4 linked regions of the Homo sapiens genome follow. The protein of the gene in region 1 purifies or fractionates together with the protein of each later gene. This does not show direct contact. Each region holds a gene or a part of one and is shown in the gene's direction. Other genes may lie near its edges.

Region 1 (4,344 bases):
GCCTGGGCAACATAGGGAGACTCCATCTCTACAAAAAAATTAAAAATTAGCTGGGTGTGGTGGCACATGCCTGCAGTCCCAGCTACTTGAGAGGCTAAGGTGGGAAGATCACTAGAGTCCGGGAGGTCAAGGCTGCAGTGATCCATGATTTGCCACTGCACTACGGCCTGAATGACAGAGTAAGACCCTATCTCTAAAAATAAAAATTAAAAAAACTGAATGCTATATGGGCTTATATCAGCGGCTCATCTGAGAAAATAAATACCAACCCATCATAGGAATGCCCCTACTTTAGACAAACCTATTAGGTAAAAATCCAGTCTTAAGAAAATAAATGTATTTGAAATTAAACACTGCTCTTTTTCATAAAGATTTCTTTACAGTATTTTCTACTCTTAGAATATTAAATTGTTTTAAAACTACTTTAAAAATATTTCATATAGGCATTTTGTCAAAGCTTATTTAGGCTTGGTTATATGGGATAAGGTAAAAAGTGTCCAATGCTGAGCCCTATAATCCTGGGCTGTTCACAGAGCGTTTGGACATCACTATCCTAATGATAAAGCTGGGTCTGGATGATTCACTCTAGATCATACCATCTATTACTATATTAACAGAGCATGTACTCAGATTCTTATCTACTTCAAAGGGATTCCTTTATGGATACTCTGATTATTAGTGGTAACAGAGTAGGCATCGGGAACAAAGTTGACTGTTCACCAAGAATTTGAAACTTCACATTTCCAGTGAATAATGCTCACCTGAAGTATTTTGTATTCCTACTGGATGACAGCAGTTTCTTCATTTTTTTGTTAAAGTTTATGAAAAGGAAGAGTTTTGGGAGGTCTACCTCCATTTCTTGTATTACGTAGAAAGCAAAGTGTAGGGTAGGAAGGGAGACAGTAGATTGGGGATCTTAAGAGAATAGTGAAGGCAGGAATAACATTCATGGAAAATGAGAGGAGCAGATCAAACAGAATAATTGTGAGGCCATGCTGAGGGCCTGTTTGAGGTTGGAGAACATTCCTATGTAGAAGCAGCAATCCGTAATCTTTTTATTTTTTTTCCTGAAGTTCTCAATAGTTAAGATATAGGTCTAAAAAGGTCAATACACTAATCGAGAATTTAGGTTTTGCTCACTGATGTGGAATAAGGTCAAGAAAGCTAAGAAGATTGGCAAGAGAGAGAATGATGAGGTTTGTGGCCTGATAGGAAAGGAAGTATAAGTAGAAAGGGGTTGTAGGGCAAAAGAGGGATGTTGTGTATTTCATTTTTTATTTACAGATTTATTTCTATTAAATACAGGCCATACAGGAACTAATGAAAATCCATGGACAAGATCCTGTTTCATTTCAAGATGTCAAGGTTATCTTTTCCTTTAATTTACGTATTACCAGATAATTATGAGATAGTCATTTGTATTACATGAAATTTTATATGAAAGCAACTAATGAAGTACTATTTGAATCAAGTGTTTGCTTTTTGTTCTGAACTGATATTTAAATCATTACGAACTGAGACCACATTTGGACTATTTATGTAGTTTATAATTTTAGTATTGTCATCATTATGTTTTCATTGGAAGCATTCATTCATTTTAATTAAGACAGTCAGGGGGCCGGGCTCAGTGGCTCATGCTTGTAATCCCAGCACGTTGGGAGGCTGAGGCGGGCGGATCATCCGAGGTCAGGAGTTCAAGACCAGCCTGGTCAACATGGTGAAACCCCGTCTCTACTAAAAATACAAAAATTAGCTGGGCATGGTGGCGCATGCATGTAATCCCGGCTACTCGGGAGGCTGAGGCAGGAGAATCGTTGGAGCCCAGGAGGTGGAGGTTGCAGTGAGCTGAGATTGTGCCACTGCACTCCAGCCTGGACAACAAGAGTGAAACTCCATCTCAAAAGAAAAAAAAGAAAATTAAGACAGTCAGTACAGTCTATATCCTACGGCAGTCTGTTCAACTGTAAACTGATTTTTTACCTTGGAAACTGTTTTAGTATGCTACCTCAAACAGCCTGTTCACTTTTAGTAATTTTGCTACAAATTTTATTTTACTACAAATTTTGTAGTTATTTTACTACAAAAAGATTAGAAAACATGTACTAATTCCCTGTAAATATCTGTTGTACACTTCATAATATAGAAGGAGGTCTTCTATATGTTCCAGTAAGTTTTAGCAGAATTTAGCTTCTTTTTGGATGTCTAATGCATATCCAGAGAAAACTCCCCTCTCCCATCCTAACAAAATGTTGACATCAACATTGGAAATGAAGCTTTGTCACTATCTCTGAAACATTTAGATGTTTAATTGAGTTGAACGGTTAGCAAAAAAAAATTAAACCAAACCCTTGTTAGCCGGGTGTGGTGGTACACGGCTGTAATCCCAGCTATTTGGGAGGTCAAGACAGGAGAATGGCTTGAACCTGGGAGGCAAAGTTTGCAGCGAGCCAAGATCGCACTACTGCACTCCAGCCTGGGACAGAGGGACACTCCATCTCACACACACAAAAAAAGAAGGGGCTGGGCACGGTGGCTCACGCCTGTAATCCCAGCACTTTGGGAGGCCAAGGCAGGCGGATCACCTGAGGTCGGGAGTTCAAGACCAGCCTGACCAATATGGAGAAACCCCGTCTCTACTGAAAATACAAAAATTGGCCAGATGTGGTGGCACACGCCTGTAATCCCAGCTACTTGGAAGGCTGAGGCAGGAGAATCGCTTGAACCCAGGAGGCAGAGGTTGCGGTGAGCCGAGATCACACCATTGCACTCCAGCCTGGGCAACAAGGGTGAAACTCTGTCTCAAAAAAAAAAAAAAAAGGCTGGGCGCAGTGGCTCACACCTATAATTCCAGCAATTTGGGAGGCCAAAGCAGGCAGATTACTTAACATCAGGAGTTTGAGACCAGCCTGGCCAATATGGTGAAACCCCCATCTCTACTAAAAATACAAAAATTAGCTGGGTGTGGTGGCGTGCACCTGTAGTCCCACCTACTCGGGAGGCTGAGGCAGAAGAATCGCTTGAACCCAGGAGGCGGAGGTTGCAGTAAGCCAAGATCGCACTACTGCACTCCAGCCTGGATGACAGAGTGAGACTCCATCTCAAAAACAAAACAAAACAACAAAAACAAAAACTACAGACAAAACTTTGTTTCACCAATTAGAAGGCAACAGAAAAATATATAAGAAACTAGTTAACGTGCAGTCCCTGAACACTGCATTAGATAGTTCTGCCACTAATTACCTATGTAGCTAGATTAGGCACTGAGCCTTGGTTTCTTCATCTATAAAACGAAGGATAGCTATCACATAGCTAAGGAGTTATCCAATAAAATTTTGTGGTTGTAGGTAGAGAAAAGGAAACTGCCTGTTAAATGGAAAAGAAAAAAAGTAGAACAAAAAATTAACATAAGCCCAAGTGGCAGCCCTCAATTTTATTCCTCTGTACTTCAGTGGATGCAAACAGCCCTGAATTTTGGATCACTATGTGTGATAGAAATTAAGTGGATCAAATTTCATTGTATTTTTTTTTCTCTTGCAGGATGAAATCTTTGACATGGTAAAACCAAAGGATCCTTTGAAAATCTCTCTTCAGGATTTAATCAACAGTAATCAAGGAGACACAGTAACCACCATTCTAATCGATTTGAATGGCTTCTGGACTTACGAGAACAGAGAGGCTCTTGTTGCAAATGACAGTGAAAACTCTGCAGACCTTGATGATACATGATCTCTGAAAGACTAGACTGTCTTATATTATGAGATACTTGAATGCTGCATGTAAAGCCTTTAAAGCAAAATCCTCAGAAATGGTCTAAATAAAACACTTGATATGCCTAGAGAACACAGCAAATGTTTTGGTTACTGGAATTTTGGTTGCAATAGTTTAGAAGCAATAGGACCAAATATTGCTTGTTAGGAGGTGGGGTAAGTTCTGGTTCCTTTTAGTTCAAAGATGGGAAGTGTGATTTGCTGTAGGTAGATGATGTTCAGTTTAAATCTGTATAATCTTCAGAGATGAAGTTTCCATGGAATATTTCTGACAGTCATTTAGAATGTGAATATTTGACTGACAGTGCATATATATATACACACAACATGTGTGTGTGTGTGTGTCTATATATATAAAATCTCAAAGATGACAAACTTTCCCATTCATGAGTAGAGCCATTTTATTTCTGGGTTAGGATTAGGATTTTTTTTTAGGGGGGGTCAAGTGATTCTCCTGCCTCGGCCTCCTGAGTAGCTGGGATTATAGGCGCCTGCCAACACACCTGGCTAATTTTTGTATTTTAGCAGAGACAGGGTTTCACCATGTTGGCCAGGCTGGTCTCAAACTCCTGACCTC
Region 2 (4,834 bases), on another chromosome or scaffold:
CCCTTCATCCCTCCCCTGACATCCCTTATCTTCCTCTTGGAGGCTGCGAAACTGACCCCAGGAAAATGGAGACAGGATGAAGGGCACCCATAATCCCATGGCCCTGATGCAATGACTGGTGCCATTTTGGGGGATGATTTCAAAATTCCTACCATGTGTTTTGAATAGGCCATTCACACCCACCATTTGGGAAAAGGGGGCTCATTGAGCAGTGAGCCTGTCCTGCCCGACCTTGCGGGCCTCTCCTAGGCGGCCACTGTTCTGTTTCTCCTGCACCCACACTTACTCTGGGCACACAGGCATCAGTGATGCTGGAGATGTGTTGGAACAAGTGCCGTATCCGTCAGCTGCGTGGGGCTCCTGCATTCTCTTTTCTTTTTCTTTTTAAGACGGGGTCTTGCTCTGTTGCCCAGGCTGGAGTGCAGTGGAGAAACCACAGCTTACTGCAGCCTCCACCTCCCGGACACAAGTGATCCTCTTACCTCAGCATCCTGAGTAGCATGGATTACAGGTGCTCACCACCCTGCCCAGCTAATTTTTAATTTTTTTTTTCTTTTGAGACAGACTTTTGCTCTTTTTGCCCAGGCTGGAGTGCATTTGTGAGATCTCGGCTCACTGCAGCCTCTGCCTCCCGGGTTCAAGGGATTCTCCTGCCTCTGCCTCCCAAGAAGCTGGGATTACAGGCATGCACCACCATGCCCGGCTAATTTTGTATTTTTAGTAGCGACGGGGTTTCGCCATGTTGGTCAGGCTGGTCTTGAACTCTTGACCTCAGGTGATCCTCCTGCCTCAGCCTCCCGAAGTGCTGGGATTACAGGTGTGAGCCACCACACCCAGCCTACTAATTTTTAATTTTTTTGTAGGGACAGGGGTCTCACTAGGTTGCTGGTCCTTAACTCCTGGGCTGAAGCGATCCTCCCACCTCGGCCTCCCAAAGTGCTGGGATTACGGGTGTGGGCCGCTGCACCTGACCCTGCTCCCGCTTTCCTTACATTGTTTTGTAGCAGCTGACAATAGTTCATCAGATGATGCACCAGAACTTCACCCAGTGCTCCTCTGGATTTTCCTTATCATAGTACCAAGAGTGGCACAGCAAATACCCTGTGTCTTTGCCATTTTGCATACATGTAAATACGCCTGTAGAATAAATCCTAAAGGATAACTACTGGGTCAGAGCATAAGTCCATTTAAAATTTTGAAAGGGGGGCCAGGTGCGGTGGCCCGTGCCTGTAATCCCAGCACTTTGGGACGCCGAGGTGGGCAGATTGCTTGAGGTCAGGAGTTCGAGACCAGCCTGGCCAACACGGTGAAACCTCGTCTCTACTAAAAATAGAAAAAATAGCTGGACGTGGTGGCAGGCACCTGTAATGCCAGCTACACAGGAAGCTAAGGCAGGAGAACTGATTTAACCCGGAAGCTGGAGGTTGCAGTGAGCCAAGATCGCACCACCACACTCTAGCCTGGGTGACAGCGAGACTCCATTTCAAAAAAAATTAAATAAATAAAAAAATTTGAAAGGGGGCCGGGAGTGGTGGCCAATATCTGTAATCCCAGCACTTTGCGTGGCTGCGGTGGGAGGATCACTTGAGGCCAGGAGTTTGAGACCAGCCTGGGCAACATAGTGAGACCCCTGTCTCTACAAAAAAATTAAAAAATTAGCCGAGTGTGGTGGTGCATGCCTGTAGTCCCAGCTACATGGGAGGCTGGGGCAGGAGGATGGCTTGAACCCAGAAAGTTTGAGGCTGCAGTGAGCTATGATCATGCCACTGCTCTCCAGCCTGGGCAACAGAGTGAGACTCTATCTTTTAAAATTAAAATTAAAACTAAATTGTAAATTTTTGGCCAGGCGCGGTGGCTCATGCCTGTAATCCCAGCACTTTGGGAGGTTGAGGCAAGCAGATCACGAGGCCAGGAGATTGAGACCATCCTGGCTAACACGGTGAAACCCCATCTCTACTAAAAATACAAAAAAAAAAATTAGCCGGGCGTGGTGGCAGGCACCTGTAGTCGCGGCTACTCGGGAGGCTGAGGCAGGAGAATGGCGTGAACCCAGGAGGCGGAACTTGCAGTGAGCCGAGATCGCGCCACTGCACTCCACCCTGGGCGACAGAGCGAGATTCCGTCTCAAAAAAAATTTTTTTTTTTGATAGGCATTGCCAAGTTGCTGTCCGTAAAGATCATTGCCCTAAGTCACACTCGCATCACAGGGTGCCACGGGGCCTGCTCCCTCGTGCTCTGGTTGGCACACGTGCAGCACAGTTTTGGCCTTTACAGGATCCATATGTAACAAAAGATATCTGACTGTACTACCTTTTAGTTTACTTTTTACTTTTTATTTTATTTTTTTCTTTTTCTTTTTTGAGATGAAGTTTCACTCCTGTCACCTAGGCTGGAGTGCAATGGTGTGATTTCACCTCACCGCAATCTCTGTCTCCTGGGTTCAAGTGATTCTCCTGCCTCAGCCTCCCGAGTAGCTGGGATTACAGGCGCCTGCCACCATGCCGGGCTAAGTTTTGTATTTTTAGTAGAGACAGGATTTCACCATGTTGGCCAGGCTGGTCTCAAACTACTGACCTCAAGTGAATCCGCCCGCCTTGGCCTCCCAAAGTGCTGGGCTTACAGGCGTGAGCCTCCGGCGTGACTGTACGATTTTTAAAAATAAACCTTTTATGTTAGTATAGTTTTAAATTTATAGAAAAATTGGAAAGTGCAGGGTGTTCCCCTGTACCGCACCCAGTCTCTGCTATTTGAATATCTTACATTATGATGGGACGTGTACAATTAACAAGTCATTATTGGTAAATCACTGACTAAAGTCCACACTTGATTTGTATTTTTGCAGTTTTTCTTTTCTGTCCCAGGATCCCACATGATTTTTGGGCTGTGGGTCTCAGGCTTGTTTGGGCTGTGAGTTTCTCAGACTCTCCTTGTTTTTGATGACCTTCGAGTTTTGGGGAGAGCTGGTCAGGGATTTTACAGAATGGCCCCCTGTTGGCCCTTGCCTGATATTTTTCTCGTGATCAGACTGGGTGGTGGATGGGTTCTAGGAGGAAGGCCACAGAGGTAAAGTACTCTTCTCACCCCATCCTGTCTGGGGTCCACACTGTCCATGTGACCTCTCACTGGTGATGCTGCTGGCCTTGGTCCCCTGGCCAAGGTGGAGGGTCAGGCTTCTCCACTGTGAGGTCGCCCATCCCCTGTGCTCTCTGGAAGGAAGTCGCTTTGTTCAGCCCACATGGAAGGGGTGGGGAGTTTTGCTCCCCCTCCTTTAGAGAAGAGCATCTATAGAAGTTATTTGGAATTCTTCTACACAGGAGATTTGTCTGTTCACCCTCATTTATAATTTTTTTTTTTTTTTGAGACAGTGTCTCACGCTGTCGCCCAGGCTGCAGTGCAGTGGCATAATCTTGGCTCACTGCAATCTCCGCCTCCCGGGTTCAAGCGATTTTCCTATCTCAGCCTCCTGAGTAGCTAGAACTACAGGCGTGTGCCACCACACCTGACTAATTTTTGTATTTCAGTAGAGATGGGGTTTCACCATGTTGGCCAGGCTGGTCTCGAACTCCTGACCTCAAGTGATCCTCCTGCCTTGGCTTCCCAAAGTGCTGGGATTACAGGCATGAGCCACTGCACCTGGCCCCACTTATTAATTTTTTCAATCATTTATTATAATGGACTCGTGGATATTTATTTTACACTTCAAGTTATAATTCAATGCTAGTTTGCTTATTTTGTTGCTCTCATTGTCACAGCTTTGGCCACTGGGAACTTTCAGGTGGCTCCTGGGTCCCTGTGTCATTGCCCATCACTTTGTCTTCTGAGCACGTCCTTATTTCTGGCCCTATAAACTGCTCCAGCCTCATCTTGTCTATTTCCTCCTCCAGTCCTAGAATCAGCCATTTCTTCAAGAAGCCCCGGTTCTTTTTCTTGGAGAGTGGTCTCAGAGACCAAGGTCTGGGAGCTGGGTGTGCTTGTCCCTACTGGGCTGTTTCTGGTCTTCTCAGCCAACAGAGCAAGGAAGTATGTAGTGTACGCCAGTTGGTGTGTAATATACACACTGTCTATAGATAGTAACCTACCTAGTAACCATTGGTGTTGTGCGTCCTACTGATGTCTCTGCCGCTAGTGGCACCTCTCGCCCCCCCGACGCTTGCTGATTGTAACCTCCCCTCCTGCAGTGAGGATGCGGCCCCATCGTCTGCTGTCCCTGGTTTAGCTCCTGTGTGTGTGTAAGGTGTGTAAGGTGGTGTCACAGTGGATAACCCAAACCCCATGGGAAGAACACCACCAATGCTGTGCTATGCTCTGGGACAGCCCCTCTGCACGGGCCCCACTCCTGCCCACGGCTCCTCGGGACAGCCCCTCTGCACAGGCCCCACTCCTGCCCAGGGCTATTAGGAAGAGCCCCTCTGCCTTTAGGCTGACAGGCCCCACTCCTGCCCGGGGCTACTCGGAACAGTCCCTCTGCACGGGCCCCACTCCTGTCCAGGGCTGCTTGGACAGCACCTCGCCCTCCACCTCTGATTTTATTTCTAACTTAACATCTGTGAGTGAGGCTGAACATCTTTTCTTTTCTTTTCTTTTTTTTTTTTTTTGAGAGGGAATCTTGCTCTGTCGCCCAGGCTGGAGTGCAGTAGCGCAATCTCGGCTCACTGCAACCTCCGCCTCCCAGTTCAAGTGATTCTCCTGCCTCAGCCTCCTGAGTAGCTGGGATTACAGGTGCGTGCCACCATGCCCGGCTAATTTATATATATATATCTTTTTAGTAGAGACAAGGTTTCACCATGGTGGCCAGGCTGGTCTCAAACTCCCGACCTCAGATTATCCGCCCACC
Region 3 (4,834 bases), on another chromosome or scaffold:
CCATGCTATGCTCCTGCTACTATCGCTTGGCAGGCACAGCTCGCTTGTATTGAGCACCCACTGATTGCCGGAGCCAGTGCTTAATGAGTAATTACAGTACCTAACATTGGAGTGCTTGCCGCGTGCCAGGCCCATCACTTGCTACCTAATGTGTAGGCTCTTAGTTGGTCTTTAACAGCCTGTGAGGTGGGTAGTGGACTCATCAACAGTGAGAGCACCCCACGCTCAGAGAGGTTAGGAGACTTGGCCAGGTTCACACAGCCGGTGACCTCCAGGAACAGGAGTTAAACCTTGCTGTCCGGCTCAGAGCTCAGGCTCTTTCCACAATGACCTTCAGCGCCTGTTGGGGGAGTTACTGCGTGTGTGGAAATCCCATCTTCCCTCCTCTGCTCCGTCCACTTCAGTGGTCCTTGTAGGATGTACTTCTGGTCTACCAGACACTGTCGGTGCTGGGTCCTCCCTGAATTGGGGTGTGGGCCTGAGGTCGGTCCTGCCCCCCAGCTGGCCTCCACCCTTAGGAGTGAACTACCCCAGGGAACCAGAACTCGGCTTTAGTGTCTGGGTCCACTCAGAAGCCAGAACCCAAAGACCAAAGTGGAAGCCTCTGTGTCCAGAAGCCTTTTGGTTTGTGTTGTGATTTATTGGGTAAAGGAGGGAAAACCTGTAGTGACTCACGGGCTTGTTCTAGAAGCTGAGTGAGTAACTTTGGGAAGACCGAATCCCCTTAGCTCAGCTTCCTTGGTATGAAAGGGAAAGTAATGCTTCCCTAGCAGAATTGTGGGGATTGGAAATAACTTTTGTGAGCTGCCCCAAGGAGGCATCAATGATGAGTGACATCCCATTCACTGCTCTATATTTCGTTCTATAAAAATATCTGCAGGCTGGGTACTGTGGTTCATGTCTGTAATCCCAGCACTTTGGGAGGCTGAGGTGAGAGGATCACGTGAGCCCAGGAATTTGAGACCAGCCTGGGTAACACAGTGAAACACAGTCTCTATAAAAAATATTTTAAAAAATTAGCTGAAGCCGGGTGCAGTGGCTCACACCTGTCATCCCAGCACTTTTGGAGGCCAAGGTGGTCAGATCACCTGAGGTCAGGAGTTCGAGACCAGCCTGGCCAATATGGGTGTGGTGGCACACGCCTGTAGTCCCAGCTACTCAGGAGGCTGAGGCAGGAGAATTGCTTGAACCCGGAAGGCGGAGGTTGCAGTGAGCCGAGGTTGCACCACTGCACTACAGCCTGGGCGACAGAGCAAGTCTCTGTCTCAAAAAAAAGTAAAAAATAAAAAATTAGCCGAGAATGGTGGTACATGTCTGTAGTCCCAACTACTCGGGAGGCTGAGGCGGGAGGATCACTTGAACCCAGGAGTTCAAGCCTGCAGTGAGCTGTGATTGTGCTACTGTACTCCAGCGTAGGCAACAGAGTGAAACCCTGTCTCTTTAAAGAAAAGAAGAATCTATGAAAATATAGATGTATAGTCATAGAAAACTTTGAGGAAATGCATGAAATATTAATGATTGGTCCTGGGCTGTGGGATCATACTTGACACTTAAATATTTCCCGTAATGAATGAGTCCTCTTGTATTAAGAGCATAGTAATTGCAATTCCTAACCTCCCTCCCTGGACAGGACCCTGATGCTTGGTGTGACCTGAGTAAATTTGACCTCCCTGAGGAACCATCTGCAGAGGACAGTATCAACAACAGCCTAGTGCAGCTGCAAGCGTCACATCAGCAGCAAGTCCTGCCACCCCGCCAGCCTTCCGCCCTGGTGCCCAGTGTGACCGAGTACCGCCTGGATGGCCACACCATCTCAGACCTGAGCCGGAGCAGCCGGGGCGAGCTGATCCCCATCTCCCCCAGCACTGAAGTCGGGGGCTCTGGCATTGGCACACCGCCCTCTGTGCTCAAGCGGCAGAGGAAGAGGCGTGTGGCTCTGTCCCCTGTCACTGAGAATAGCACCAGTCTGTCCTTCCTGGATTCCTGTAACAGCCTCACGCCCAAGAGCACACCTGTTAAGACCCTGCCCTTCTCGCCCTCCCAGGTGCGTGGACCCCACTCTGGCTGCTTATTGGGTCGGTACAGACACCTAGTGTTCAGTGCTGGGGCAAGGGTGAGCAAAACGAGACCTGGCTCTGCCCTCATGCAGCTTATGCTCTGGTAGGAAGACCAGGTAACTAAAAAAGACTCAGAAAATGTGATAATCAGGATGAAAGAGAAGGCTTATGGTGCTGCATATGTGTATCTAGTCTGGGCAAGTCCAGGAAGACTGCCAGGAGGAGAAGGAGGATGCTGGTAACTGGGTAATGAAGGAGAGGAAGAGAACTGTCGTGTTTGTTCAGTCCACGTATGGAACCTATTTCACAGCAGACTTACCAGCACTGGGGAGCAAAGATGAAGATGATGGGTTGTCTCCAGCACTGGCTGGCCCTGCCTGGTCCTGGGAAGACCTGGGATAGCCAGTGCTGGGGATGGGCTTGTAATGAATTAACCAGAATAGAGTGTGGGAAGTGCCATGTGATAGCAATTGCGAAGTCACTGAGAACTCACTGTTCTGGGTGTTGCCCCTGGGTGCTCTGTTAGTAACACACAGAGCCTCGGGAGCCGGGATGGGTGCCAGGGTCTCTCTGAGATAGAGGTCATGGGGGGCACCTGGCCTTCCTGCAGAGAGGTGTCTGGGCTGGGTCTCCTTGAGCACCTTGACCAAAGGCACAGAAAAGGAAGGACAGAGTGGATGTGTGGAGTGGTGGGGGGTGGCGCAGGGCCTTGGTGGGCCTAGGTATAACTTAGGGCTTTGGCTCTCATTAGGTTTGTTCTTCCTGTGAGGCTGTGGGAGAGAGCGAGGCCCTGAGGTGGCCTGGTGCAGGAGGCCACCCTGTCATCACGGGTCAGGATGGCTAGTGGCATTTTGAGAGAGACCCTGTGTCGGTTTGCTCCGGCTGCTTAACAGAGTACCACAGGCTCGGTGGATTTGACAAGAAATTCAGCAGTGTTGGTTTCTACTGAGGCCTCTCTCCTTGGCTTGTAGATGCTGGCGGCTCCTGTGTCTTCACGTGGTCACCTGTGTCCTAATCTATTATTTTTTCTTGTAAAACCTCTTATTTTATAATGTTATAAGGACACCCGTTATTGGATTAGGGCCCACTCTAATGACTTTATTTTTTGAGAGTCGCTCTGTTGCCCAGGCTGGAGGCTGGAGGCTGGAGTGCAGTGGCATGATCACAGCTCACTGCAATCTCCACCTTCCAGGTTCAAGGAATTTTCCTGCCTCAGGCTCCTGAGCAGCTGAGATTATAGGCATGAGCCACCATGCCCGGCTATTTTTTTTGTATTTTTAGTAGAGACAGGGTTTCTCCAGGTTGGCCAGACTGGTCTCGAACTCTTGACCTCAAGTGATCCACCTGCCTCGGCCTCCCAAAGTGCTGGGATTACAGGCGTGAGCCACCGCGCCTGGCCTAACTAACCACTTTAAAGGCCCTATCTCCAAGTATTAATACAGTCCCATTCTGAGGTGCTGAGAGTTGGGACTTCAGGATGTAAATTTGGGGGAGACACAGGTCAGCCTGTAACATGCCGCAAGTGAGGGCTGCTGGCTGGAGAAGGAAGGCAGCGGGTCCCTCAGCTACTATTTGGGAAGCTCAGGATGATGGAGCGTGGTCGCTCTACTCCAGAGACCCCATTTAGGGTGGTGACCCTGAGGGTTGCAGATGGCTCTCTATTATAGCACCTTCAGGGCAGGGAGGGAAGAGAGCGGGGTGCTTCAAAGGATGGATGTTGGCTTAGATCTAGATTTCATTCTCACTTCTAGCACTCAGTGCAAGACTCAAAACCTCTCTAAGCGTTGGTTTTCTTATCTGTAAAAGGGGGATAGTAATAGTGCCTATGTCTCAGGATTTGTGGTAACTAATTGAAATTATTTGTGTGAAGTGCTTAGCACTGGCAAGAGAAGGTGCCCTCTAAATGATAACCCCACCGCCACCAGCACACTACAACTGTCACATGCCTTTTGCCTTCACAGGTCAGTTCAGAGCTAGTTTTATTTCTTCTGAGAAGGAGCCACTCTCCCACAGTTGGCTTCCTGTGCCTTAACTGCGTCGTCAGCACTCGAGTAGAGATGGCAAAAGCTAGGATTAGGGTGACGGAAGCCCAGAGGTCTGTGTGAACCTGCTTGGTGGGCTCCTGGCATCGATCTGTCCCAGTCCTTGTTCTCGGGTGTCTGATGGGTCAAGAGGGGACCTCAGTATCAGAGCAGACGTTTTGGGGGAGAGGCTCAAGGATCTCTCCCCATGATCCCCTGAGGTCTCAGGGATACTCATGCAGGTCATCATTTTGTCTTGTTCCCTCTCTCTTCTTTGGCAGTTTCTGAACTTCTGGAACAAACAGGACACATTGGAGCTGGAGAGCCCCTCGCTGACATCCACCCCAGTGTGCAGCCAGAAGGTGGTGGTCACCACACCACTGCACCGGGACAAGACACCCCTGCACCAGAAACATGCTGCGTGAGTGCTGCAGTGCCCCCAACCTTCGCCGTCCTCTCCCTCAGCAACACCAGACCATGGGCCTTGGGACCACTGGTGGAACAGTGGGGAGGGGGCACCCTTGGAATAACACTGAAGACTGTTTTAAGAAAGCCCTCTCCTTTCTGGCCACCACGATTTATCATTTTTATCGATATAGTTTTGGGCTCCACCTTTGCTTTTCCTCATTTGTATTTTTTAATTTGATAGTTTCCTTTTTTGTGATCCTCCTGCCTCAGCCTCCTGAGTAGCTGGGACTCCAGGTGCATGCCACCATGCTCAGCTAATTAAAAAAATATTTATTTATTTATTTATTT
Region 4 (4,834 bases), on another chromosome or scaffold:
TTTAATTCTTTTAAATTTGTCAGGGTTTGTTTTATGATCCAGCATCTGGTCTATGTTGTTGAATGTTCCAGGTGCACTTGAGTGTGTGTGTATTCTGTTGTTGAGTGGAGTGTTATGTAAATACATAAATATCAATTAGATCCTGTTGGTTGGTGATATTGTTCAGTTCTTCTGTATCCTTGCTGATTTTCTGTCTAGTGACTCTATTAATGACTGAGAGAGGGGTCTGGAACCCTTAACTGTAATTGTGGATTTGTCTGTTTTTTTTTTCACTTTGTATGTTTTGAAGCTCTGTTTGTTGAATTACATAGCTAGGATTTTTATACCTTCTTAGTGGACTGACCCTTTTAGTATATGTAGTCTTCCTCTTTTTTTTTTTTTTTTTTGAGACAGAGTTTCCTTCTTGTCCCCCAGGCTGGAGTGCAGTGGCACGATCTTGGGTCACTGCAACCTCTGCCTCCCGGGTTCACATGATTCCTCTGCTTCAGCTTCCCGAGTAGCTGGGATTACAGGCGCCTGCCATCACGCCTGCCTAATTTTTGTATTTTTAGTAGAGACGGGGTTTCACCATGTTGGCCAGGCTAGTCTCGAACTCCTGACCTCAGGTGATCTCTGCTGGGCTCCCAAAGTGCTGGGATTACAAGTGTGAGCCACGGTGCCTGGGCCTTGTTCCTCTTTTTTCCTGGTAATTTTCTTTGTTGAGACATCTGTCTTATTTGATATTACTGTTGTTACGGTAGCTTCTTTTGATTGGTTTTTGCATGGCGTATCTTTTCCTATCCATTGCTTTGAACTTTTAACCTACCTGTATCTTTATATTTGAAATTAGTTTCCTGGTTCATTATTTTTATTCACTCTGCTAATCTCTGTCTTGTAGTAGTGTTTTAGGCCATTTACATTTAATCTAATTGTTAAATATTAGAACTTAAGTGTGCCATTTTATTGTTTTTTGATTGTTTCCTGTGTTTTTTCTTCTGTTTCCCTTTTCCTGCCTGCTGTGACTTACTCGAATATTTTTAGTATCTCATTTTGATTTATCTGTTATGTTTTGGTGTATATCTCCTTGTATGGTTTTCATAGTGGTGGCTATACAAATTACAATGTATTTATGTAATTCAACACAGTTTACTTGTACAGGTATTTTACTACTTCTAAGTGAAATATAGAAACTTTATCACCATTTAGGTCTCTATCCTCTCCCCTTTACAATTTAGTTGTCTTAAGTATTTCCTCTGCATACCTTGAGAACCGTATTAATATTATGATTTTTTTTAAATACCTAGCCTTTTCAGTAACTCAGGAGGAAACATATTTATCTGCATGTTTATCTGTTCTGTTATTTTTTCTTCATTCCACGATGCTCTAGGTTTCTTTCGTTTTTCCTTTATATTTGAAAAAATTTTTTCAGCAGTTGTCTTAGGGCAGGTCTGCTTGTGACAGATTCTCTTAGTTTTTCTCTACGGTTTTACAGTTTTCATCTGTCATCTCCATTTTGCTATTAAACTGCTCTTGTGATTTTTTGTTATTGTATTTTTCTTTGAAATTTCTATTTGTTTCTTCTTTATATCTCCTGTTTCTTTGCTAAGACTAGTTTTTCCTTTGTCTCAGGTGTTTGTAATTGCTCATTGAAGTATTTTTTATGACAGTCACTTTAAAATCCTTGTTAGACCTAAGTTCTGTGTTCTCTCTTGGTGGTATCTGTTGATTGACTGTGTTTTCTCATTCAAATTGCCATTTTTCTGGTTCTTGGTCATTTTTTATCATATTGTGGACATGCTGGGTATGATGTCATGAGACTCTGCTTCCTGTTTAAATCCCCTTACTTGAGAAGACTCCTCACTCGAGCCTGCTGGGTGCCACCTTGTTGCCGGGACAGTCATGGAGCTCCTGCCTCACCCACGGCCTCTGGCAGACCCTACTGGCTGGGAGAGTGAAGGGCACCACCTCGTTCTAGCCAGGCCGGGACAGCAGTCAGGATCCATTCTCACACCCCGGTGCTGGCTGCTGCGCAAGGCCAGGTGGACGAGGGGTGTGTGTGTGTGTGTGTGTATGTGTGTGTGTGTGTGCGCGCGAGTGGGGGTTTGCTTGCAGGAGGGCTGATGATGTGAAGAGAGTCTGTCCTGCAAGGCCCCTCCTGGTGCCAAGTGGACGAGGGGTGTGTGCGTGTGTGTATGTGTTGTTGTGTGTGTGGGTGGGGGTTTGCTTGCAGGAGGGCTGATGATGTGAACAGTGTGTGTGGTTGCAGGAGGGCTGATGATGTACAGAGAGTCTGTCCTGCCAGGCCCCTCCTGGTCCTTTGGCCATCGAGAGCAGGCTTACGGTTTTTGGTCTTTTTGTGTTTCTGGGCTGCCGACTTCTGTGGCACCCAGAGTGGGATGTGTAGTAAATAAGCATAAACAAAACCCCAGAGTCAAGCCAGGGACTCAGCGCTGGGTTCTCTCTCGAGTGCCGAGGCCCCTGGCTGGTTGGCTTCTGTTCCTTTCAGTCCCCCAATGCTTGTTCCGTATATTTTCCTCCAGGGCAGTGGGTCTAATATGCGGGAGGAGCAGGTTGAAATGTGTCCTCTCCATGTTGCCTGGAACTGGAAGAGCTCAAACCAAATTTTAAACTTAATCAGAACATATTCTGGTTGGGTGTGGTGGCTCATGCCTGTAGTCTTGGGAGGCCGAGGTGGATGGATCACCTGAGGTCAGGAGTTCGAGACCAGCCTGGCCAACATGGTCAGGAAACCACAAGACTGTCACGGAAACCCTTTTCTTTCAGTAACATGAGCCAAAGGTCACTGCACCTTGTCCCCTCCTGACCCTGTCCCGGTGGCAGGGTGTGGGGGACAATGAACTGCTTGTCTGTGTGCCTCCAAGTGGGGCAAAACCAGGCAGCATCCTGCTGTTTAGCTGCACCTGAGACGATGCCTGAGGGCTACCTGAGGAAACAGGGAAACGTGGGGTTTTAGCCGGATGTGGTGGCGTGTCCCTGTAATCCCAGCTACTCAGGAGACTGAGGCGGGAGAATCACTTGAACCTAGGAGGTGGAGGTTGCAGTGAGCCGAGATCGCACCACGGTACTCCAGCATGGGCAACAGAGTAAGACTCCATCTGAAAACAAAAACAAAAAAACCAAAACATATTCTAAAACATAAATGTTCCCAGGAAAGTATTGATGTATTCGGATCTAAACTGCCTTTTTGATTACGGAAACTTTCATCTTGTAATTAATGTTGATGTAGTGACTGCTTATGGGGTGCGTGGAGCTTGCACAGCCCGACCACAGTTGTAACAGGAGGACAGCAGACAGGTTACCCGACGAGTGGGTTTCAGATGGTGATGGCTGCAAGGGGTGACAGAATTGAGCAGCCAGAAGTGGAGGCGGGAGATGAAGTAGAGGGGTGTTCCTGGGGAGAGACGGTTTTGGAGGGAGAGGCAGTAAAGGTGGGAAGAAGCGTGTGGGCTTGGAGGTATTGTAGAGATAAACATAAGCCGAAACTTCAGGTACGTTCCTTGCTCGTCAGTGCTGATATTCCAACTCCAAAGGAGTTGCACTGAGTTCTAGGTGCCTCTTTCAGATTACGAGGATACATATCTCTCTGAGAAAAGCTGAAAATACAGAAATGTGTAAGAGGGAAAATAAAGGGATTTATTCCACAATAGGACACATGTGTTAAAGTTTGTCTTTCAATCTTTTTACATATACTGTTAGAGGAAGAAATGTTTTGAATGACCCTTGTCAGGCACAGTGAGGAAGGCTTTATTCAGAACCATTGAGGTGGGCCTGGGGCCACTGCGCTGGGATTTTGCAGTGGGGGAGAGAGATGGAGCTCAACTCCAAGTACAGCAGGGGCCGGGGGGAGTTTATAGCCTAGGGTCAGGGTGGGGGCAGTGGATGGAAAATGACTGAGAGGACACATGAGGAGTAAGGGGATTTGGGCTAAACCAACTGAACAGGATTATTGCGAAAGAGAGGCCAGGGTGAGCAGACACCACCTATGGGATCTGGGGATGAGGAACCTGAGCAGATACTGAGGGTGGGGGTTTTGGCCGCACTAAACTGGACTTTACAAGGAAGGGCACAGATGGCCGAGGAGAAGATTCAGGAGCCTGAGTAAAGTTGAATTAAACCAAGAATCTGTGTCAGTTTCTACTCCATATCCAACACCAAGAACTTGACCGTTATTATAATTGTTTTCAAAATAAAAGATTAAAATCTTACAATTTTTCTATTCTTAGCTGAGCTTCAGTCATTGTCTATTCCTGGAACTTACCAAGAGAAGATCACCCACCTGGGACATTCTCTGATGAGTTTAACAGGTCTGAAATCTTTGGATCTCTCGCGCAACTCCTTGGTTAGTCTGGAGGTAAGTTTTAGGTCTCTTTCTTAAAATTTATTGCTATCAACATCAGTGGAAAGTCCATTCACAGCAGAAACGGAGTCTGTTTTGTAACCCTCTGCTTACATCTGTATACGGTACACTTTGTGTTGCGTATTTTTGTGTTTACCGTGGGCTACATTTCATACACATCACGTTACGTTGTGTTGTCGCCCTCTGATGACGATGATTATATCTTTAAAGGAAATGAAATGAGACCCCAGAGACTTACTGAGTGGCAGTGCAGTGGGCCTGGGGCTGCCTCCTGGGCTCCTGGCAGGGTCACCCTGGAGAGAGATGCCTAGGTGGTGGTGAGGGGAGCTGTGCACAACTACCATGGCCTGATTGGCCCTGACAGAACCGTGGGATGCGCCTGCCCTGAGCCCGATGCCTGAGCATTATGGAGGCTGCGTCTGCATGGCCTGATTGGCCCGGACAGAACCGTGGGATGCGCCTGCCCTGAGCCTGGTG

What was found.
Region 2: the proteins of PPP2R3C (region 1) and CEP131 purify together in Homo sapiens (affinity purification with mass spectrometry; one large-scale study listed by BioGRID and IntAct). This does not show direct contact.
Region 3: the proteins of PPP2R3C (region 1) and MYBL2 purify together in Homo sapiens (affinity purification with mass spectrometry; one large-scale study listed by BioGRID and IntAct). This does not show direct contact.
Region 4: the proteins of PPP2R3C (region 1) and CEP72 purify together in Homo sapiens (affinity purification with mass spectrometry; one large-scale study listed by BioGRID and IntAct). This does not show direct contact.

The regions. Positions count from the first base shown.
Region 1 is NC_000014.9:35,084,972-35,089,315, reverse strand, and holds the end of PPP2R3C (serine/threonine-protein phosphatase 2A regulatory subunit B'' subunit gamma), read left to right. Parts: intron 1-1,305; coding exon 1,306-1,365; intron 1,366-3,537; coding exon 3,538-3,726; 3' UTR 3,727-3,844; downstream 3,845-4,344. UniProt on the Homo sapiens protein: May regulate MCM3AP phosphorylation through phosphatase recruitment. May act as a negative regulator of ABCB1 expression and function through the dephosphorylation of ABCB1 by TFPI2/PPP2R3C complex.
Region 2 is NC_000017.11:81,212,083-81,216,916, reverse strand, and holds part of CEP131 (centrosomal protein of 131 kDa), read left to right. Parts: intron 1-4,834. UniProt on the Homo sapiens protein: Component of centriolar satellites contributing to the building of a complex and dynamic network required to regulate cilia/flagellum formation.
Region 3 is NC_000020.11:43,700,860-43,705,693, forward strand, and holds part of MYBL2 (myb-related protein B), read left to right. Parts: intron 1-1,630; coding exon 1,631-2,044; intron 2,045-4,359; coding exon 4,360-4,499; intron 4,500-4,834. UniProt on the Homo sapiens protein: Transcription factor involved in the regulation of cell survival, proliferation, and differentiation. Transactivates the expression of the CLU gene.
Region 4 is NC_000005.10:614,767-619,600, forward strand, and holds part of CEP72 (centrosomal protein of 72 kDa), read left to right. Parts: intron 1-3,062; exon of another isoform or gene 3,063-3,083; intron 3,084-4,223; coding exon 4,224-4,351; intron 4,352-4,834. UniProt on the Homo sapiens protein: Involved in the recruitment of key centrosomal proteins to the centrosome.